3 separate regions of the Homo sapiens genome follow, and regions 1 and 2 are each linked to region 3. Evidence: fine-mapped expression QTL. A gene starts in region 3. Each other region holds a variant in brackets. All regions are shown on one strand. Distances are from middle to middle.

Region 1 (8,286 bases), 440 kb after region 3:
TCCTCGAGAAGAGCAACTTCAAGACACATAATTGTCAGATTCACCAAAGTTGAAATGAAGGAAAAAATGTTAAGGGCAGCCAGAGAGAAAGGTCGGGTTACCCACAAAGGGAAGCCCATCAGACTAACAGCGGATCTCTTGGCAGAAACTCTACAAGCCAGAAGAAAGTGGGGGCCAAAATTCAACAGTCTTAAAAGAAAGAATTTTCAACCCAGAATTTCATATCCAGCCAAGCTAAGCTTCATAAGTGAAGGAGAAATAAAATCCTTTACAGACAAGCAAATGCTGAGAGATTTTGTCACCACCAGGCCTGCCCTAAAAGAGCTCCTGAAGGAAGCACTAAACATGGAAAGGAACAACTGGTACCAGCCACTGCAAAAATATGCCCAATTGCAAAGACCATCAATGCTAGGAAGAAACTGCATCAACTAACGAGAAAAATAACCAGCTAGCATCATAATGACAGGGTCAAATTCACACATAACAATATTAACCTTAAATGTAAATGGGCTAAATGCTCCAATTAAAAGACACAGACTAGCAAATTGGATAAAGAGTCAAGACCCATCAGTGTGCTGCATTCAGGAGACCCATCTCATGTGCAGAGACACACATAGGTTCGAAATAAAGGGATGGAGGAAGATCTACCAAGCAAATGGAAAACAAAAAAAAAGCAGGGTTTGCAATCCTAGTCTCTGATAAAATAGACTTTAAACCAACAAAGATCAAAAGAGACAAAGAAGGCCATTACATAATGGAAAAGGGATCAATTCAACAAGAAGAACTAACTATCCTAAATATATATGCACCCAATACAGGAGCACCCAGATTCATAAAGCAAGTCCTTAGAGATCTACAAAGAGACTTGGACTCCCACACAATAATAATGGCAGACTTTAACACCCCACTGTCAACATTAGACAGATCAATGAGACAGAAAGTTAACAAGGATATCCAGGATTTGAACTCAGCTCTGCACCAAGCAGACCTAATAGACATCTACAGAACTCTCCACCCCAGATCAACAGAATATACATTCTTCTCAGCACCACATCGCACTTATTCCAAAATAGACCACATAGCTGGAAGTAAAGCACTCCTCAGCAAATGTAAAAGAACAGAAATTATAACAAACTCTCTCTCAGACCACAGTGCAATCAAACTAGAACTCAGGATTAAGAAACTCACTCAAAACTGCTCAACTACATGGAAACGGAACAACTGCTCCTGAATGATTACTGGGTACATAACGAAATGAAGGCAGAAATAAAGATATTCTTTGAAACCAATGAGAACAAAGACACAACATACCAGAATCTCTGGAACACATTCAAAGCAGTGTGTAGAGGGAAATTTATAGCACTAAATGCCCACAAGAGAAAGCAGGAAAGATCTAAAATTGACACCCTAACATCACAATTGAAAGAACTAGAGAAGCAAGAGCAAACACATTCAAAAGCTAGCAGAAGGCAAGAAATAACCAAGATCAGAGCAGAACTGAAGGAGATAGAGAAACAAAAAACCCTTCAAAAAATCAACGAATCCAGGAGCTGGTTGTTTGAAAAGATCAATAAAATTGATAGACTGCTAGCAAGACTAATAAAGAAGAAAAAAGAGAAGAATCAAATAGATGCAATAAAAACTGATACAGGGGATATCACCACTGATCCCACAGAAATACAAACTACCATTAGAGAATACTATAAACACCTCTACCCAAATCAACTAGAAAATCTAGAAGAAATGTATAAATTCCTGGACACATACACCCTCCCAAGACTAAGCCAGGAGGAAGTTGAATCCCTGAATAGACCAATAACAGGCTCTGAAATTGAGGCAATAATTAATAGCCTACCAACCAAAAAAAGTCCAGGACCAGAAGGATTCACAGCCGAATTCTACCAGAGGTACAAGGAGGAGCTGGTACCATTCCTTCTGAAACTATTCCAATCAATAGCAAAAGAGGGACTCCTCCCTAAGTCATTTTATGAGGCCAGCATCATCCTGATACCAAAGCCTGGCAGAGACACAACAAAAAAAAGAGAATTTTAGACCAATATCCCTGATGAACATCAATGCAAAAATCCTCAATTTTATTTTTGATAATCCAAGCAGCACATCAAAAAGCTTATCCACCATGATCAAGTGGGCTTCATCCCTGGGATGCAAGGCTGATTCAACATATGCAAATCAATAAACATAATCCAGCATATAAACAGAACCAGAGGCAAAAACCACATGATTATCTCAATAGATGCAGGAAAGGCCTTTGACAAAATCCAAAAGCCCTTCATGCTAAAAACTCTCAATAAATTAGGTATTGATGGGACGTATCTCAAAATAATAAGAGGTATTTATGACAAACCCACAGCCAACATCATACTGAATGGGCAAAAACTGGAAGCATTCCCTTTGAAAACTGGCACAAGACAGGGATGCCCTCTCTCACCACTCCTATCGCACATACTGTTGGAAGTTCTGGCCAGGGCAATCAGGCATGAGAAAGAAATAAAGGGTATTCAATTAGGAAAAAAGGAAGCCAAATTGTCCCTGTTTGCAGATGACATGATTGTATATTTAGAAAACCCCATTGTCTCAGCCCAAAATCTCCTTAAGCTGATAAGCAACTTCAGCAAAGTTTCAGGATACAAAATCAATGTGCAAAAATTACAAGCGTTCTTATACACCAATAACAGACAAACAGAGAGCCAAATCATGAGTGAACTCCCATTCACAATTGCTTCAAAGAGAATAAAATACCTAGGAATCCAACTTACAAGGGATGTGAAGGACCTCTTCAAGAAGAACTGCACACCACTGCTCAACGAAATAAAAGAGGACACAAACAAATGGAAGAACATTCCATGCTCATGGATAGGAAGAATCAATATAATGAAAATGGCCATACTGCCCAAGGTAATTTATAGATTTAATGCCATCCCCATTAAGCTACCAATGACTTTCTTCACAGAATTGGAAAAAGCTACTTTAAAGTTCATGTGGAACGAAAAAGGGCCCACATTGCCAAGATAATCTTAAGCCAAAAGAACAAAGCTGGAGGCATCACGCTACCTGACTTCAAACTATACTACAAGGCTACAATAACCAAAACAGCATGGTACTGGTACCAAAACAGAGCTATAGACCAATGGAACAGAACAGAGCCCTCAGAAATAATACCACATATGTCTACAACCACCTGATCTTTGACAAACCTGACAAAAACAAGAAATGGGGAAAGGATTCCCTATTTAATAAATGGTGCTGGGAAACTGGCTTGCCATATGTGGAAAGCTGAAACTGGATCCCTTTCTTACACCTTATACAAAAATTAATTCAAGATGGATTAAAGACTTAAATGTTAGACCTAAAACCATAAAAACCCTAGAAGAAAACCTAGGCAATACCATTCAGGACATAGGCATGGGCAAGGACTTCATGTCTAAAACACCAAAAGCAATGGCAACAAAAGCCAAAATTGACAAATGGGATCTAATTAAACTAAAGAGTTTCTGCACAGCAAAAGAAACTACCATCAGAGTGAACAGGCAACCTACAGAATGGGAGAAAATTTTTGCAATCTACTCATCTGACAAAGGGCTAATATCCAGAATCTACAATGAACTCAAACAAATTTACAAGAAAAAAACAAACAACCCCACAACAAGTGGGCGAAGGATATAAACAGACACTTCTCAAAAGAAGACATTTATGCAGCTAACAGACACATGAA[A/G]AAATGCTCGTCATCACTGGCCATCAGAGAAATGCAAATCAAAACTGCAATGAGATACCATCTCACACCAGTTAGAATGGCGATCATTAAAAAGTCAGGGAACAACAGGTGCTGGAGAGGATATAGAGAAATAGGAACACTTTTACACTGTTGGTGGGACTGTAAACTGGTTCAACCATTGTGGAAGACAGTGTGGCGATTCCTCAAGGATCTAGAACTAGAAATACCATTTGACCCAGCCATCCCGTTACTGGGTATATACCCAAAGGATTATAAACCATGCTGCTATAAAGACACAGGCACACGTATGTTTATTGCGGCACTATTCACAATAGCAAAGACTTGGAACCAACGCACATGTCCATCAGTGATAGACTGGTTAAGAATATGTGGCACACACACACCATGGAATACTATGCAGCCATAAAAAGGATGAGTTCATGTCCTTTGTAGGGACATGGATGAAACTGGAAACCATCATTCTCAGCAAACTATCACAGGGACAAAAAAAACCAAACACCACACGTTCTCACTCATAGGTGGGAATTGAGCAATGAGAACACTTGGACACAGGAAGGAGAACATCACACACTGGGGCCTGTTGTGGGGTGGGGGGAGGGGGGAGAGATAGCATTAGGAGATATACCGAATGTAAATGACGAGTTAATGGGTGCAGCACACCAACATGGCACATGTATACATATGAAACAAACCTGCACATTGTGCACGTGTACCCTAGAACTTAAAGTATAATAATAAAAAAGAAAGAAAAACATATTTCATGTTTCATTTTCCATGAAATATGGTATATTTCTCCATATCGTAAAACCTTCTTTTATAGCTCAGTAAATATTTGTTCTCTTAGCATAAACTCAGACATTTCTTGACAAAGTATTACTAGATCTTTTAACAATTAGATTATTAGATTTTTATTAGGCCTAATATTTTTATTATGCCTTGTAACTGCTTCTTACAAGCATATTTTATTAATTATTAGCTTATCTTGGATTTTGTCAAAAGAAAATCATATTATATACAAATTACATTATTAATTCAATGACAAGTAAGTATCTACTATGTGTCAGCCAAACTTAATAAGCACTGAGAATACAGTACTGAAGCAATCAAAAAATGAAAAACAACAAAAAGACCCAAAACAGATTATGGAGGTTATAGTTCCAGCAGGAGAGAAGAGCAATAAACCAAATTTTACAAAAATAATGTATAAACTAGGATAAATGGTGCTTAAAGCAAAGGAAGAACAATTGAGCAGAGAAGAGGCATATAAAATAACAAGAGTGGGTGTTGAAATTTTTGGAGTAGAGGGCCTCACTAAAAGAGTAACTTCTGACTAAGGAACTCAGAGCAAATCTGAAACAGAATAGTCATATATAAAATATTTTTAATGTAATGAAAGATCAGATTTTGGAGGTTCTTATGGATGGTATTTAGAGTTTTTACTTGGAGTGATTTGGGGAGATGTTGGATGATTTTCAGCATAAAAGTGGCATGAGATGCCATAGATTCTGTGGTTCTGACTGTGTTAAGACCAGATTTAAAAGGACAGAAGTAAGACCAGTTGGAAAGTAGAGTAGAAGTTGTAGTCACCCCTTCCTATAGCCTTGGTTCACCCTGAGACACCTGTATGTAGACAATCCCCACGTATATTAACTGCTTCCTTTTTCTCTGCCTGAAAAGCAGTGAGCACGAAAGTGCCAGGGACGTATGCCTAGAACTGACCCTTACCAAGTTCGGAAGAGAGTTGGTGCCTAAAGACTCCAATTTTCCTCAGTGAGACAATTCTGACGTGTTTTCTATATAGTCTATTAGAGGGTGCCCTGTAGAACTAGCCTTCAGTGTCAAACAGCATTAACTCACTCATCCATGCACGCTTCATCGGCTTTTCCTATTACACTCTCCCACTATCCTACCATGCTTCCTGGGATTACCCTCTTAGAGTCAGGTTTTGGAGGAACCCAACTAACACAGAGGTTGTTGTAATAATCTAGGCAAGACAGAATAAATAATACCTAGGACCAACACATAGTCTTAAAATGGTGATAATTGATTTAATGCTGGATACACTATAAGGAAGACCTGAAATAATTTGCCAATGTATTCAGTGTGAAATAAAAGAGAAAAAGAGGGATTGGGATGACTCCAAAAATTTTGTTCTGAGCAATTGGAAGGACATAGTGTCCATTAACTGAAACGGGAAAGAGTACAGTTCATCTGGAAGAGACTTAGTATATGGTGTGAGCTAGGAGTCATTTTTACAATATGAGCATATAGTTGATTCAATGCCATTTATGAAAAAGAACCTCCTTTATACACTGCAGTGATACTTTTGTCAAAAATCAAGTGACCATATACATGTGAATATTTGTCTGTATTTCATGTTCTGTTTCATTAACCTGTCTATTCTTACACAAATATCTGACCATCTCAATTTCTGTAAATTATAAGTCATAATATTTGGCAATGCAATTCTTGCAGCTCTGTTAATCTGGAAGATTACTTTTTGTTTCCTTTTTTTTTTTTTTCTTATTTTTGAGATGGAGTCTTGCCCTGTGGTCCAAGCTGGAGCACAGTGGTGCAATCTCAGCTCGCAGCAACCTCTGGCTCCCAGGTTCAAGCGATTCTCATGCCTCAGCCTCTCAAGTAGCTGGGATTACAAGCACGTGCCACCACACCCGGCTAATTTTTGTATGTTTTATGGAGAGGAGTTTTGCCATGTTGGCCAGGCTGGTCTTGAACTCCTGACCTCAAGTGATCTGCCTGCCATGGCCTCCCAGAGTGCTGGGATTACAGATGTGATCCACTGCACCTGGTTGAAGACTACTTTTTATAGCATTATTAGTCTTGCAACTTTATAACAAATCTTAACATCCATCATGTAATTCCTCCAACACTCTTCATCTTGAATAGATTTTCATATTCAATAGTGCAATTCCTTGAACTCTGTTCTTCAAGTCCCATTCAATTTCATTAAACTTCAGAAACATCTTATCTCTTTACGTACACACATAATGTTGATATTTTTAGAATGCTGACCAATTTGGGAGGAATGTAGATCAATTTAAATTAATAAATAATTGATTTGATAAATTTATATCAATTTGAGAAAGAATTAACATCTTTACTATATTGAGCTTCCTACTCAAGAGAATTTTTAATATGGGAAAATAACAGCATATTTCTATACTTATTACACTAGTAAACAGGGAAAAGTAATGATACAAGAAAAGAATTCTTGGAACAATATTTCAGAGTGAGAAAGGGTAGATAAGATCTAATATCTAAGTGGCAGGATCCACCTTAGCTAGGTACATGGCCAGTTCATCAATAATAATAGAAAAGAAGAAAGAGTAAATAGTCACATATGGAAGTAGTTCGGTAAAGTGGTGGTGATGGGATCTCATGAGCATTCTCTTTTGACTGCTTCAGTTCAGTGAAATAGCCTGAAAATGACATGGAAAGGAGGTATTAAAGATTTCAGCAAGAGCAGAACATGTAAATAATCATCTAGAAAAGTGGTAAAGTGAATGAAATTTGTAAATATATAAAAATTTTAGGGCAGCATTAAACTACCACTGGAGATTAGTGAGCAAAAATTTTAACTAAGAACAGTCATCACGGCTGTATGCTTTTCTCCAGCAGTTTTTAACTTCAGGACAGGAGATGGCAGAGAGTAAACCAACAAAGTTGTCTTCATTCCAAAATTATTACTTTTGTGATTATTTCCTCTCTCATTGCATAGGCTGCAAATCCAAGAACACACAAAAAATGACAATGGTTAGGGTAACTGTCCTTAAGTTGTTCTAGTTTTTAATGAGAATGCCCATAATAGGGCATCATTAAGTACAAAGATGGCTGCTGGTTTAAGACAGCTAGTTTGTTACCTCTTAAAAGTGTTTTTTTCTAAGAGTTGCCAGTGAAATGTGTCCTCTTTCCCTATGTCTTTTGAGATGAATGTCCATTTATTTTAATTATTTTTACTTTCTCTTGGTATTAAAATCTTCCATAGATTGAATATTTTTTACTTTCCTTTGGTTCTTCTCTAGCTCTATCATGTCTTTTGTCAGGTGTATCAATCAAGACATCATAATCCAGTATGAACTCACCAGGTTTTGTGTAAGGAAAGGGATAACATATATGTGGGTGGTGGCAGTGTGTTTCTGTATCTGATTCATACCAGACAATGTTGCTCAGCTTTTTTTGGTCATGGAAGGATGTTGAGAACAGTCTGCAATAATTATGTCAGTTGCTAGCATATAGTTGCTTTGGTAGCTTAGAGACAATAATCATAATTAACTTAAAAATGTTTTTTCTCTAAAATATATTATCTTACAATGGCTCACACTGATTATTTTTTGCTGTATTTCTATAAATTGCATACTTTTATTAAATGTTTCTCATGATTTTTATCCTCCAATGTGGGCTTTCATTTCCAAGAATAACTTAATTTACCAACTTGGTGCGCTACAACAATTAATAAAGATCAGAGAAGGTCTGAATACTGATTCCTAATGAATATACATTTTGCACATTTT
Region 2 (8,000 bases), 32 kb after region 3:
CTATGTATGCTCACTACTCTTATTATCTTATCCAATTTCTGGTAAGTATTCTGTATCTGCCACTGGCTTTCTAATTTATATCCCGAGCTCAGACAGTTTCATGGAACTCCAGACTTGTTTATACATCTATGTAATATATCTGCAATTGATTTTATAAGAGATATCTCAAATTTGACATCTCAAAAACTCAGTTCTTTTATATTTCCCTGTAAACCTGTTTTATTTATAGTTTTCACCATTTCAGTTGATGGCCATTCCATTTTTCCAGTTGCTTAGACCAGAACTTTGGAATAAACTCTGACTCTTCTTTCTGTCATAGCACATTCTTATTTTTCATGTGTGATTGTTAGATCTACCTTTAAAATATAACCAGAATTGAGCCACTTCTCACCATTTCCCCTGCTACCACTGTGAACCATGCCACCATCATTCTCACCAGGAATCTAGCAGTAAAATCTTAACTATTCTCCCTGCCCTAGTACCTTTGTAGAGTGATCTCAAGAGTGAAGCCAAATTGGGCATGGTGGCTTACGTCCGTAATCCCAGCACTTTGAGAGGCTGAGGTGGGAGGATTACTTGAGGCCAGGAGTTCGAGACCAGCCTGAGCAACAAAGCAAGACCCCATCTCTACAAAAATAAAAATAAATAATTAGCTGGGCACAGTAGCTCATTCCTGTAGTCCTAGCTACCCGAGAGGGAGGTGGGAAGATCACATGACCCCAGGATTTTGAGGTTGCAGTGAGCCAAGATCACACCACTGCAAAGCCTGGGTGACACAGTGAAGCCAGAGAGATCATTTAAAAATGTAAGACCTGACATGTTGCTCTTTTACAATGTCTCCTCAGAGTAAAGGCCAAAGATCTTGCAGTGGCCTGCAATTCCCTGTGTGATCCATGACTCTGTTCCCCCACCCTGTTTCCTTTCTGACCTCTCTGACTCCATTTTCTATTCCTCCTGCCATTGCTCACTCAGAACCAGCTTCTCGGACTCTTTGCTCTTTCTCACATCAAACCCATGTCTGCATTAGGACCTTTCCAGTAGCTGTTCATCTTTCCCATAATATTTACATGGCTAGCTCTTAATCTGTTTCCAGTCTGTGCTCAAATATCAATTTCTCCTAGTGGCCTTCTTTTAGCAACCCATGTATACATGCTACCAACCCTCATCCCCCCCATACCAGCATTCTTCTTCCTTGTTTAATCTGCTGTATTTTTTCATGGCTTTATTATCTTCTAATAATGATGTGTTTTATTTATTATATTCATTTTTGTTGTCTTTTTCTCCCCGCAAGGCTGTAGGCCATGAGGATAAGAATTTTGTTTGGTTTTGTTGATTCATGAGGCCTGAGTGCTTGACATGTAGTAGGTGATCAACAGACATTTGTTTTAAATAGTATCTTGAAGACAATTTTGTAAATCATTTTTTCTATATCTAGAATTGTAAGATTTTAGAGCTGGAAGGGATTTTATGTTATAAATAGTTTCTAAACCTGTGCTAATAGCCACATGGTACTATTCAAATGTAAATTAAAATTAAGTAAAGATTTAGTTCCTCAGTCCTAGTAGCAACTTTTAAGGGCTCTTGTGTTCAGTGGCTGCTGTATTTGACCACTCAGGTATAGCACTTTTCTGTCATACCAGAAAGCTCTATTAGACAGCCCTGGGCCCATGGATTCCCCAAGGTCATACAGGTCATTAGTCCATGACTGATATTGAACCCAGGGGACTCAAATGATTTATGAAAATTACAGAGTATTCCTTCTCATATAAATGCCCTGGGGATCTTGTTAACATTGCAAATTCTGATTTACTAAGCCTGAGATGGGGCCTATACTTTTACAATTCAAACAAGCTACAAAGTAATGCCAGTAATGCTGACCTGCAGCATCACACTTTGAGTAGCAAGGCTGTAGAATGCTCTAAAATATTAAGGAATAACTCCTTTTAACATTTTAAGTAGGACATGTATTCATTTTTACCGCAAAGGTATGTTTTGTAATTAGAATAATGTTTCCTAATAAAACTAGGTGAAACCTTAAATACTGGTTTTGTACAAAGCTACATATATTAAAACATGTTTTCTATTCCCAAATGAAAACTTGATAAATAATAGTCAAGCAGGAGAAAATAAGAAACTAAGAGGCTATAGAACATTGATTTTAAGAATGTACTTGACATAGGCTGGTTTGTGGTTTATATTTCTAATGCTGTGTAGATGTAATGGCTGTTCTGCTAACATCTATAGCAAGATACTGGATTCGGTTAGCTTGTTCTAGTGTATTATATAATAAAAGTTTAGAATAGTGAGAAGAGGGGAGGTTTTTCTTGTTGAAATTGACTTGTTCCATTTTGTTTCAGAATGTGGATTTGATCTTGGAAAGTATGGTACTATCTTTTGAATGATAAAAGTACATTGAATTTTTCTGTTCCAAATTTTGTAAAGAATAATTCTTTAGCAGAACATTCTTTGTTGTAATGATTTTTTTTGTCAAATTCTAATTGTAAAGTAATTGGATTACTTTAATAAATTACTAGTTAGTAAATGTAATAAATTTACTTTAAATAAATTTAATAAATTTATCCTTAGTTGCTTATGCAGATGACCACTCATCTTTTACCTAAAACGATTTATGTCTTTGATGATGTTACATTTAGATATCAGAAAAAGACATTGCCATGAAGCTGTCTAAATTTTCCAATGTAATAGAATATTTGTTCATTTTATAGACTGAGAAACAACTGTCAGTGCTCTTGCCTATAGTAGTATTATTGGCAAATTTATAGAGCATAATCAAATAAAACATTTTGTAATAATTGAGTTCAAATAGTAAAATATACTTGATATATGAACTTTCTTTTGGTCTCTACTGCTGGCCAGTTATGCCTAAAGTTGACTTACTATCAGAAACGCATGAGGCATCTATTAAAAAATAGATTCCTGAGGTCTTGCCCCAAGAAATTCTGATTTAGTAATTCTGGGATGTGTCCCAGGAATCTGTATTTTTACAAGTATCTTGGGTTTTCTGACTAAGCGAACAATATAAATAGAGTGCCTAGAACAATAACTGGCAGATAGTAATTACAAGTAAATATTAGATCTTCTCCTCCCCTCCCGTCCTTTCCACTAAAATTATTATCATTAGCCCATCTGTTAACCAAACTTTGGTTAGGTTTTCCTTTCTTTGATGAAGAGGCTTAGGAAATATGAGAGAATAAGATCATTCCTCAGTTGCGCAAATATTCACTGAGGGCTTTCTAGTTGTGGCACGCACTATTCCAGATCTTGGCAGTGCAAAGGTGAACCTGACATGTTTTTAAGTCAGGGAATTGTAGCCTATTCGGGTAGATATATAAGTAAAATCACCTGTCTTACAGTGTAGTAGGTGCTACATTAGAGCTAGGTGCAGGTGCTGGGCGGCACATAGGAAGGCCGGGTAGGCCAGCTGTTTGTCAGGGAGAGTTTTGTAAGGAATAGTGAGGCCTCAGATGAGATCTAAGGGTAAGTAGGAGTTAGCCAGATAAAGAAGGGGCTGCGTAAAGAGTGTGTCAGGGCTAAGAGTGCCACAGCTGAAAGAGCATACTTCTTCAGTGAATTGCAGTGGCTCAGTAGAAGCAGGAGATCCTCTGGAGAGGTGAGTGGGAATTCGAGCCATTAATCTATGACAAGGAATTGAGGCCTTTATTCTGCAGGTAGTGGGCAGTGATTGAAAGTCATTGAAACAACATTTTGCATTTGAGAAAACAAATTACTCTGGCTGGAGTGTGGAGAAGGGACTGGAAAGAGGGAAGGGGTCATGATGGAAGGAAGAGGAAAAAGCAAGTTTAGAAGAAAATGGAATTTTAAAATATTAGCCTAGAGAAAAAAAAATATGTATATAAGGGATGTGTGTGTATCTTTTTGTTTTATAAATGTTTAAACATATTTTTAAAATATAGGCAGAATAGTCTAACCCCATGTGCCTGTCACACAACCACAACAATTAGTGACTTATGAACTATTTTGTTGCGTATCTATTCCCACTCACTTCCCCTTCCCTTCCTTATTTTGAAGCAAAATCCTGACGTGATTTCATCTGCAAGTCTTTCAGTATGTATCTCCCTAAAGTGAGGACTTATTCTTTTGAACGGAGACATAATTACACCTAAATAATAATCATTTCTTAATATCATTATATATCTAGTCAGTGTTCAAATTTCCAGTTGCCTCATGAATGGTAGACTTCACAAACTTGTAAGTGAAATAACTAAGACTGTCCAGACTTCTGACTTCAGATGTGTGAATCTGTTTTCTCCCATACACAGCTGCTTTGCTGCTCCCAAATTGGAGAAAAAAAAGTTAGTTACTAGCATGATGTTAGGTAGATACAAAAGTTTCTACAACCTGCTTTTTGTATATATCCTCAAACTACTACATCCTGAGCTGCCCAAGTGTTTTCTTTTGTGCTAGTAAGTGCTACTTTAGGCAGTTGTATGGCATTATATTTCCAACTAT[G/T]CTTTCATCTTTTTTAGGAGTAAGAATTATACTTGAAAAACTGTACACCTGTTACTTGAGCCTGAATTTTATAGCTCCGTGGCTGACTGTTGGCAGGCTCTGGGATTTGGAGCTTACCATCTAAAAGAGATAGTACTGAGAAAGTTGAGGTATACTACGAGAATTTTTTATGATCCAGGAATAGACAACTTTGTAAATTCAGGCTACTAATATTGTGTAAAAATGGGATGTTACGTATCCAAGTATTAACCTAAGGATAATTTATAGTTCTATTAAGAAAAATTAAAACAAGATTATTTCTCATTGTTGACTATATTTGTACCCTTGAGTAGGGAGATGTTTGTGGTTTGTCAGTTATTTATACCACCACCTTCTTCATCCATATTTTATTAAAAGTTAGTGTACTTTTATTGCCTCTAATCTCTTTTACAGATTTTATTTTGTGAAATATTATACATACAAAAGAATATAACACATGGTTATAGTTTTAAAAACAATAATAAAATGAAAGCTCACATAAAAAATAGAACAGTAACAATATTGAAGGCCATCCTGGTGCCATCCAAAACACACTGTGCACTCTGATTCAGAGCTAAACAATGTCCTGGATTTTATTGAATTATTTATTAATTTAGTTTCATTACAAATGTATGCATCCCTAAACACTGTTGCTTAGTTGTGCACATTTTTAATCACTTTTATAAAAATGAAAACATTCTTTGTATGTTTTTTATAGGACTTTTACTTTATTCAAAGTTAACATTTTGAGATTCTTTTATATGAGACAGCAATTTGTTCATTTTTCATTGTTGTTTTGGAGTTTGTTGTATGAATATAACCCGATTTACTTACACTTTGCCTATTGAAAAACATTTGGAGGGCGGGTGCTGTGGCTCATGCCTGTAATCCCAGCACTTTGGGAGGTCGAGGTGGGTGGATCACCTGAGGTCAGGAGTTCGAGACCAGCCTGACCAACATGGCAAAACCCCATCTCTACTAAAATTACAAAAATTAGCTGGGCGTGGTGATGGACTTCTGTAATCCCAGCTACTCGGGAAGCTGAGCTAGGAGAATCATGTGAACCCAGGAGGTGGAGGTTGCAGTGAGCCGAGATCGTGTCATTGCACTCCAGCCTGGGTGATGAGCAAGACTCTTGTCTCAAAAAAGAAAAAGAATCAAGAAAAGAAAAACATTTGGAATATTTCTGGGTTTTTTTTTTCTATTTCTCTTACAGACTATGTACATGTATAGGAATTTTTCCAGATTTTTTAAATCTGGGAAAGGTTTTGTTGCTTCACAAGGCCATGAATCTTTAACCTGGCTTGGTATTGCCAAATTGTTTTCCAAAGTGGTTGTGCCAGTTGATACTCGCTCCACAGCTGATGAAAGTTCCCATTGCTCCATAACCTCAACAGTACTTCATCGTATATTTAAGTGTTTTGCCAGTCTGCAGGGTATGAATAAACATCTCATGATTTTGTGTGTTCATTACCCTCATTTATAATTAGCTTGAGCTTTTTTTATTTTTGAAGATTTTTAATTTTGAAGATTTTTTTAATTTTTGAAGATAATTTATGTTTTCTCTGATGTGCTTTTTCTTATCTTTAGCCCATTTTTCTGTTTCTTGGGTTGTCTCTTACTGATTGATAGGAGTTCTATTTTTTATACCCTCAATACTAATCTTTTGTTAGTTAAATGTGTGTTGTGGATATCTTCTACCAATTCATGGTTTTCTTTTTCTATTTTTATGATGTCTTTTATGAAGAGTTTTAATTATCTTTAATCCATTGCAATCTGAATTCTGTCCCCACAGCTCTGTTGACATTGGCTCTTGAAGGCAAACTTCATAATGAGGGGAAGAGTCAAGTTTTGTGTAACCTGAAGCATATACAGTGTGAGCATACTCTTTAAGACTAAGTTATGAATATAAAGTTAGATGCAAAAGTAAATGATTACAATGAGACTATAAGTCACAACAATTACAAATTTTAAAAGCTACCAAATACTACAAATATTGCAGTTTTAAAATATAACATTCCTCTTAACTGCCTTGTATATCTTTATATTACTTATCTATTTTTTACTATATAAAGCCTGATTACCTTTGTATAATGAAAATTTTGTAATGTAATTTTGAAAGTTGGAGTATAAAAATGATCCGTATTTTCTTTAAATCATCTTAATATGGTTTAGTATTGACAGTGGAGATGCATAAAATATGTTCCTCTTCACACAGACTTGTTTGTAGCACTCCTGCAAGTTTAGGTTCTACAAACACGGACGTGCTGGTAGAGTCTATTTTTTCATCATTTCTGTCAAAAAAGAATTTATTTTCTGTTTTGGTCCGGTGTGTATTCATTTGTTAAACTGATGAGAAGAGAATTTCTGTTTTGACCAGGCATAGAAAAGAGAATCCTCTGTTTAAAATGTTCTGTGTGATGATTGAAAGGATTTTTCTATAGAAGAGTTCACGGCTCCATGTATTTGCATGTATGGCTGCTTCACTACTCGCATGTTCCCCACCCTGAGCTTTATAGAACATGTTGTATTACAATCCTGGTGCTTAAGTCATGACTCCAGGTAAGTCAGCACAAAAGGATGGAAGATATTCCTGGAAATCATTCCTACCCTAGGGCTCTGCCAATTACTTAACCATATGCGAAAGTGACTGTAAATCACATAGACAGGTTCACACAACTCGAGTTAATATATTCCCATCTCAAATACTTCTTAGGCAAATCCGAAAAATGTTCACTCATAGCTGTAGTAATGACAGCAGACACATTGATGAAGGGCAAGTCAGAGTGGAAAGTGACAGGGGTCTTAACCAATTACAGTTAAATCTCTCACTCCTGCAAAAACATCTGACGCATTGAGCACATTCATAGGTCCTTGGAAACAGCCTGTGGCGATGAGATACCTGGACACTAGTTTCAGGGTAAATCCTGCATCTTTAATCTGCTCGCTCTCTCTACAGCCCTGAACACTTTCCCTTGCTTGTTTTCTTTACTTTCTCACCTTTAGTTGTCTCTCCCTCAAAGGCTTTTCTAGACTCTACTAACTTAATGTATTTCTCCAATATCTGCCTTGCTTTTAATTTTTTCATCCTGTAGTATCCCTTTGACCTTACTGATCCCACCGCTTGAACTGTCCTTACCTGTTCTTATGTGACGGTGACTCCAAAATTTCCATGTTGAATCCTGAATGTCTGCCTGACTCCGGCATTCCTTTTCTGATTGTGAGCAAGGGGCATCTCCTAATTGACATGGCTCCTCAGATGCCTCAGATTATATATGTTCAGAGCAAACTTTTAATATTTCTTCCAGACCATTCACCACTTCATCCTTTCATGTTCCAGTCATTTCTATTCTCAGCTCTGGGCATTTTCATTCTCCCAGTCACGTAGCCTCAAATCTTCATCATCTCCGTTACCTTATTTTTTCACACTTTACTTCCCTCATTTTGCCCCTCTATTCTCCTATCCCATGGATTCACCTTGTATGTCATTT
Region 3 (8,264 bases):
GATCCCTATGACTCACCATATACAAAAATCAACTCAAAAAGGATTAAATACAAATGTAAATCCTGAAATTATAAAACTACTACAAGAAGCCATAAGGGAAATGCTGTAGGAGATTGGTCTAGGCAATAATTTTATGACTAAGACTGCAAAAACAAAGACAACAAAGGGAAAAATAGACAAATGGGATTAGAGCAAACTAAAACACTTATGCACAGCAAAGGAAACAATCAAGAGAGCAAAGACACAAACTGCAGAATGGGAGGAAATATTTGCAAACTATTCATCCCACAAGGGACTAATACCCAGAATATACAAGGAACTCAAAAAACTCAACAGTATAATATATATAATAATTGCACTAAAAATTGGGCAAAGGACATTAACAGACATTTCTTGTCTGTATAAAAGAAAGTCTGTATAAAAACAGACAGACTCATAGACCAATGAAACAAAATAGAGAATCCAGAAATATTATTAAGTCCACATATTTATGGCCAACTAATTTCCAACAAAGGTGCCAAGAATAAACATTGGGGAAAAGACATTCTCTTCAATAAATGATGCCGAGAAAACTGGAAATCCCTATGCATAAGAATGAAACTAGACACCTATCACTCACACAGTTGATCACAAAAATCAACTCAAAAGACTTTCTTTTATATAGACTTTCTTTCTCAAAAGAAGTCATACAAATGGCTAACAAGTTTATTTAAAAAATGCCCAGCATCATCAATCACCAGAGAAATGCAGATCAAAACCACAATGAGACATCATCTTACCACAGTTAGAATGACTATTATCAAAAAGACAAAAAATAACAAAAGGTGGCCAGGATGCATAGAAGAGGGAAATTTTATACACTCTTGATGGGAACATAAATATGTATAGTCATTATAGAAAATAGTCTGGAAGTTTCTCAAAAAACTAAAAATATAACTACCATATGATCCAGCAATCTCATTACTGGGTATTTATCCAGTAGCAGGAAAGGAAATCAGTAAATCAAAGTGACATCTGCACCCCTATATTTATTATAGCACTATTTACAAGAGGTTGATATGGAATCAACCTAAGTGTCTATCAACAGATGAATGGATAAAGAAAATATGGTATGTATATTCAATAAAATACTATTTAGCCATAAAAAATGAAATTTTGTCATTTACAGCAACATGGATGGCACTAGAGATCATTATGTTAAGTGAAATAAGGCAGGCACAGAAAGACAAATATCACATGTTCTTGATATATGGGAGTTTAAAAAGTTGATCTCATGGAAGTAGAAAGGAGAATGATAGTTCCCAGAGGCTGGAAACACAGGGGCAGATGAAGAGAAGTTGGTTATATGTATACAAACATATACTTAGATAGAAGGACTAAGTTCTAGTGTTCAATAGCACAGTAGGCTGACTATAGCTATATATTGTATATTTTAAAACAGCTAGAAGAGAATATTTGAAATGTTTCCAACACAAAGAAATGATAACTGTTCAAGGTGATGAATATCCTGTGTACCTTTATTTGATCATCACACATGGTATGCATATATCAAAATATCACATATATCCCACAAATATGTTCAAATATTATGCATTAATAAAAATGATTTAAAAAAATTGAAGGGAGCCAAAAAGAAGTCATGTTTTAATGCCAGGATAAGAAAGGCAATAATAGAAAAAACAGCATTCTAAAACTGACATAGTTTTCTGATATTGAAGTCTGGATTTTAGGGAAGGTACACAGTTCACTGCAGATTAGGACATTTTGAGGCTTTATGTTGGTAGGAGCAGGATATTAGTGATAGTACTTACGTTGTATCAACAGTTGTGTACAACCTGAGATGGAGCAGATGGTTTGAGTTTTGAGAATATTAAGCTTGTGGCAGATAAATGGAATTTTTGCTAAAATATTAAATATTGGTTAATAAAATATTTTCAACCAATCCTTCTTTAAATAATTAATCCCATCGAAACAATCATTACTGGTGCTTCATGCACTTCAGAGAAAATTCATTGTGGAACCACGATGTTAACTTTTCAATTTAATTCACTTCCATGCTGCTGGAGTCCCATGAGCACTAGATTGAATGCCAGGGGTGGTGGGTCAAGGATTCAGGCAAGTTTGGGCCAATTTGGAGGGTGGAAATAGGGAACCACATATTATTCTATTTTCACAAAGGCCCAATGAATTCTGTAGGGAAGAAGTCATGGCAAAATAAAGGGCTGCAGTTTTAAGCAGCAGAGATATGGGCGGCCATCATGAGTCCCAGCAGGGACTTCTAATGGGTTTGGTGTAGAGGACAGCCACTTCCAGTAAGCTGGAACCTAAGGGATAAGGAATAAAATGGTAAACACTGGAAGAACAAGTTCTCAGAATACGAGTGAAAAATGTGTGTGAGGAGGGGTTCCCAAAACTATAAGAGGACTTTGAGGGGTTTTATTCCAATAGACGCTGTGGGAATATACTTTTTGGCATCCATTATTGTTACTCTGGTCTTAGCCTGTTGTCACCTGGAAAATGCAGATTACTTTTATATCTCTGGAAAGAATAGTGGCTTGGTCATCAGATGGCACACTCAAAAGGCACACATAAGTAGGTTTCTTGTCTCTGTCTTTAAAACAATAAGCACTTAAAGTATCATTTGGAGAAAACAGCAGTTACCAGGAAATCACTTAGCTGAGATAAAAAAGAAAAGAATCCTCGAATAGCATTTAATCTTCAAAATAAGAATTTTCCATTCTTGGGTCAGACCGATAGATGACATGGCATTTAGACATCCAATTCATACCTTTGCTTGCAACTGAGCCTCAGACACACATATATGATGGAAATGTTCTTTGGCATTACACTGCTTTCTTAGTTTGCATCGCTAGTCACCTTTGTATCATTTGCATCTGATTTGGAAAATATTTTAGAACAACCCAATAACAACTTCGAGATTAAAAAATAAAATTCTACACACTTTACAGTTCCTTGCTATTACATGAATGTGTAAATTGAATTCCCTCTCAGGAGAAAAAAAACAAAACAAGGGCTGGCTTCCCAAAAATGTTTTCACTGGCTTTAGGGAACTAAAACACCAGTGTCTGGGTGAGTAATACTTCCTGTAAAATAAAGATAGATCAACACATAATTAAGTCCTGGCTCACATATAATTGTTGTTTTGGAAACAGTTTTGAGGATAAATATGGTTATGCTAATGAAACTGCCCATGATTTCCACTAATGATCCAGTTTATTAATTAGGTCAGGACATTTTTCCACCTTGTGCTATCCATTTTGGAATGCTGAAAAGGGTTAAAAAAAAAAACTTCTAAGAGAACACTGTAGGCGAAGAAAAAGAGAGAAATTTTAAATTAGTTATCAACTCTTCTAAGGATTCCAGTTGGAGGAGTAGATCGAAAGTGCTTTTTCGATTATTTATGGGTTTCGAAGATTCTTCCTACTCCACTAGGCAGAAAAACAGAGTTGTAATATACAGCATTTAGAATTCATAATCCTTAGCATTATTTCTCTGAACTCGACATCCTAAATAGCCAGCGTTTACTAATTCCAGAGCTGAGTGTAGTTTTGTAGGAAGTTCTACTGAATGCGGAGACCAAAGGGGAGCCTGCCTGCTCTGAGGGTTTTGTTGAGGCTGAGTGTGAACTCCGGGCGAGAAAGCGCATCTCAGCTCTTAGATCACACCCACTCAGGGTGTGCGTGTGTGTGTGCGCGGGTGCCTGCGCGCGTGTGTACGTGTGGGGAGGTGTGCGCCAAAGGGGTGGGGTGAGGGGCGGCGAGGAGGGCTGTAGGTGAAGCGCGGGGAGAGGGAGGTCGCCCGCTCCGGCCTCTCCCCCAGGGGCCCTGCGGCTGGCCAGCGCTCCGGCTGCACCTCCTGGTGCGCGCCGCGGCGGCGCCACAGGCCCCTCGACCCTTTGACCACCGCCCTCGGGCCGCGCGTCCGGCAGCCGGGACCGGTGATGGCGCGGGACTGACGGCCGTCTCCTCCCAGACCCCTCTGTCCCGCCTGGGGCTCGCTGGGGCTGCGGCGCCGCCCCGAGCTGCATGTGGGGCGGGCGCGCCCGAGCCCAGAGCGAGCGGCCCTCGGCGCCCCCGAGGCGGTGCCCCGCCGCGCCAGAGTACGAGGAGGAGCGGCGGGCCGGGCCAGGCTCCCCACGCGCCGCAGCCTCGGAGCACGGGCTCCCCGGAGGGGACTTGGGGCGTCCCAGCCCAGGAGGAAGGACCCGGAAGCAGAAGCGGAGCCGCGAGTCGAGCCGAGCCACTGCCCCCGCTGCCCGCGGGCGCCGGGTGGGGGTCCCGGCGGCTGGATGGGCAGCGGCGGCGCGGGCCGCGGGCGGCGATGGGCGAGGAGCAGAGCACGGTGAGCGGCGGCGGCGGGCCCCAGGAGTCGCAGACCCTGGCCAGTGGCACTGCGGGCCACCCTGAGCCCCCGAGGCCTCAGGGGGACAGCGCCCGGGCGCCCCCGCTGCGCGCCGCCTCCGCGGAGCCGAGCGGCGGTGGCTGCGGAAGCGACTGGGGCTGCGCGGACACCAGCGCCCCAGAGCCCGCGAGGAGCCTGGGGCCCCCGGGCTGGAGTAAGAGCCGAGCACCGGCGCAGCCTGCGGGACTGGCACTCACCGGGCCTCTCAATCCCCAGACCTTGCCACTGCAGTTGGAGCTGGAGGAGGAAGAGGAGGAAGCTGGGGATCGAAAAGAGGGAGGGGATGAACAGCAGGAGGCGCCCCCCGGCGAAGAGCTGGAGCCCAGGACCCGCGTGGGGGCCGCCGACGGACTGGTCCTGGACGTGCTGGGTCAGCGGCGCCCGTCCCTCGCCAAGAGACAAGTCTTCTGCTCCGTGTACTGCGTGGAGAGCGACCTGCCCGAGGCCCCCGCCTCGGAGCAGCTCTCGCCGCCCGCGTCGCCACCTGGGGCTCCGCCAGTGTTGAACCCTCCCAGCACCCGCTCTTCCTTCCCCAGCCCCCGACTGTCCCTCCCAACGGATTCCCTCTCCCCCGACGGCGGCAGCATCGAGCTGGAGTTCTACCTGGCGCCCGAGCCGTTCTCCATGCCCAGCCTGTTGGGAGCTCCACCCTACTCTGGCCTGGGCGGTGTAGGGGATCCCTATGTGCCCCTCATGGTGCTGATGTGCCGGGTGTGCCTGGAAGACAAGCCCATCAAGCCCCTGCCTTGCTGCAAGAAGGCCGTGTGCGAGGAGTGCCTCAAAGTCTACCTGAGCGCCCAGGTAACTTCACCCCCTTCTCTTCCCCATTTATCATTCCAAATCACTGGCGAGGAGGTCCTGCTCTCGATCTGATCTCCCTGCTCGCGCGAAGAGGTGACCGACACACTTACTGAGGATCTCTGTTAGTTTCTCACGTCTCAGTTGTTATTTAAGTGTATTATGACCTCACTGGTTTACTTAACTGGAATTTAACTTTGCTGTGAACTTCAGGCTATGGTTGGCATGTGTAGAAGGCACAAGATACAAGTTGTTGCCCTCCTCTTATTTCTTATACAGGATTGCAAGCACAAGCTTGCTCAAAGGAGGAGAGGAAGAGACTGCCTCATCGGCCTGGTATCCCAGAAACTAACAAGCAGTGGGCATAGAATAAATATTTATGGAGCTGGTGGAGAAAAGAATTGGAATAAATATTTCAGACCCATAATACATGAATTTGTAATTTTGCTTCATTTGTATATTCCAGGAAAGAGTGAATGTTTAAAAAAATGTATCCCTTGGCCTTTGCCTACTTTTCAGTTTCCTTTTTCCACAGTAAAGTTGAAGTACTTTTCTTTCACTGAGGTTTTAAGCCAGCACTCTTTAAGAGGGAAGCAAAACAGAAAGAGCAAAACAAAGCAAAGAGAGGCTAAGAGGTTTCTCAGAACAAGCACTGGTGAAACTTTCCTCCTCTGCTTTTATTTGAAAACTTGGTTTTTTTTCTTGGAAAGCTTGAGAGTGCACCAGACCAGCTTTCCTTCACTGACGGTGAATGCGTTCTTCCAGCAGTTTTCAATCTGTGATGTTTCTGCCAGTGTTTTGCACAATCCTGGATGCCCTTTGATCCTGTGTCCAATTGTCCTAGGCCTATTCATCTTTCAAAACCCTGTGTGTTCAGGTGCCAACTCTTCTGTGAAGCGTTGCCTCACCCTCCAAGTCACTGCTTATATACTTTCACAGTATCTTATATTATCTTACATGCACTGAAGTTGTTTCTTTCGTGTCTGCTTGTCTTGTTAGACTGTCTGGACAATGTCTTAGAGTCCCATATGTGGTAGCTTCATGTTGAGTCCCTTGCCCATCATAGTGTTTTTAATAACATTGGCTGGGACAAACTGAACAGGGCTCCGTACCATGTGATTCCTCTATGTTTTTTGGCTAACTCATGCTTGGGTCTAGACTGAAAGTGTGTACAGTCCCTAACTAAAAATGCAAACAAAGACTTAAAACGGTATGTTACATAAACAGTAAGTTGGCTAAAATAGTTGGGATTATTTAAAAGCCTCTGAGAGACTGTTGTTTCTTTCATGCTTTATCTACAGAGATTCTTAAAACAGGAGGAATGTCTGCTGCTGGTTGTGGTAGTTTCTGTATCATCATCCTCAAAACAGATTTCGCTGCCCTGCGATGGGATTCAGACATTTCCAAAATATAAGCCCGCCTCCAGGGAAGTCACTGTGAGAGCAGATGTGTACAAAAGAACAATACAAGGTAGCATGGGATGAGATGTCAATAGAGTAACAATTCCAGATAGCACTTCCTGTTAAATGCTGGATACACATTCCAGAAATTCAAGGGAGGTAGTCATTGTGGCTTGGGGTACTTTACCTAGCAGTTTGATTTCCTTATGGTGGGCCCTTTCCCCAAAGCAGTTTTCTTTTTCTTTATTAAACCTCATAAGTTAGTTTTAGGAAGTTTTAGTAATGGTAGTAGGGAGACAGAGGGACATAGTCAAGTGGTCATTGCAGTGTACAGTACAACCACTAAAAACTCCTCTGCAGTGACACAGTATCTGAAGCTTGTCTGCAGCATTTCTGATTGTATGTATGTGCCTGACCTTCTTCCAAAGTATTTGCTGGGACTTTCAATAAATAATAATACACATTATTGGCCGGGTGCGGTGGCTCACGCCTGTAATCCCAGCACTTTGGGAGGCTGAGGCAGGTGGATCACCTGAGATCGGGAGTTCAAGACCAGCCTGACCAACATGGTGAAACCCCGTCTCTACTAAAAATACAAAATTAGCTGGGCATGGTGGCGCATGCCTGTAATCCCAGCTACTTGGAAGGCTGAGGCAGAAGAATCACTTGAACCCAGGAGGCAGAGGTTGCAGTGAGCCAAGATCACATGATTGCACTCCAGCCTGGGCAACAGAGTGAGACTCCTCTCAAAAAAAAAGAAGAATATACATTATTTAAAATAATAAACAGCAACAAAAAGATGAGTCATAGATACCGGGCATGCTTTCACCTCAGGGCTTTTGTACTTGGTTTTCCCTGTTCCAGGAAGGTTCCCTCCATGGCCCTCTTATCTGCTCACTGCACTCCTTTTCAGGGCTATATTCAAATGTCATGCCCTGTGACTTTCACTGACCACCCTTTTAAAAATTGAGCCTCACCCCACGCTCTCTCTCTTTTTTCCTGCTTTTTATTTTCTCCATAGCACTAACATACTCTGTCTTACACTTAAGTAATTAAGTCAAGACAGAAGTTTTCACATTATTTGTACAGGTCTGTATCTTTAGCATCTACAGCGTTGTCTGGTATATAACAGATGGGCAACTAAAACCTACTGAATTTTTGAAAGGCCTGAGATTGCCCCAGAAACCAAGGCTAGGAAGTGGTGTTCTGCATTGGCACTAAATTCTATTCTGAGCTTCTTGATACTTAAGACAAAAGACAAAGGGCTTAAAGCGGACAAAAGTAACAGGTTTGCTAAGTTGGTTATTAAACTTAGAATTTAAGAGCTTAGATAAACTTTGAGCTTATACATAAAATAGCCTTTTTTAGTTGGTTAAAAATACAGGATTGTGGTTGTAATATTTTTGATCTGTGTCAATTCTATGGTCCCTCTACTCAAAGGTTGTGTTTCTCTGTCACTTAACCTCTCTATGCCTTAATTTCCTCATCAATGAAATGTAATTGCAGACAACCTGTAATAACCCACCAGTTCCAAAGCAAAACAAAGTCAAACTGCATGGTTATTTTGTTGCCCTACTGAACCACATCAAAAGGGCATAGTGAGTGCTTTCTTTCTCATCTTAAAAGGTCTCTTAGGTTTGACAG

Direction of the effects. Positions count from the first base shown, and alleles are read on the strand shown. Sizes are in standard deviations (SD) of each study's normalised expression. Not every link is listed here.
As copies of G replace T in region 2, the expression in skeletal muscle of the gene that starts at base 4,824 in region 3 goes up (large effect, 0.90 SD a copy in FUSION).

The links.
Region 1: its variant is fine-mapped to the expression of RNF217-AS1 in esophagus muscle (GTEx, PIP above 0.99).
Region 2: its variant is fine-mapped to the expression of RNF217-AS1 in skeletal muscle (FUSION, PIP 0.95).

The regions. Positions count from the first base shown.
Region 1 is chr6:125,397,745-125,406,030 of GRCh38, forward strand. The region is part of intron 1 of LOC102723341 (a long non-coding RNA gene); the gene reads right to left. Among named protein-coding and RNA genes, the nearest start is that of HDDC2, 100 kb to the left of the region's middle. The variant A/G (reference allele first, on the strand shown) is at 3,734.
Region 2 is chr6:124,990,271-124,998,270 of GRCh38, forward strand. The region is part of intron 1 of RNF217 (ring finger protein 217); the gene reads left to right. Among named protein-coding and RNA genes, the nearest start is that of RNF217-AS1, 31 kb to the left of the region's middle. The variant G/T (reference allele first, on the strand shown) is at 4,492.
Region 3 is chr6:124,958,204-124,966,467 of GRCh38, forward strand. RNF217-AS1 (RNF217 antisense RNA 1) reads right to left here and starts at 4,824. Exons shown (of 7, transcript NR_026876.1): 1 at 4,620-4,824. RNF217 (ring finger protein 217) reads left to right here and starts at 4,234. Exons shown (of 6, transcript NM_001286398.3): 1 at 4,234-5,223. The coding sequence starts at 4,342.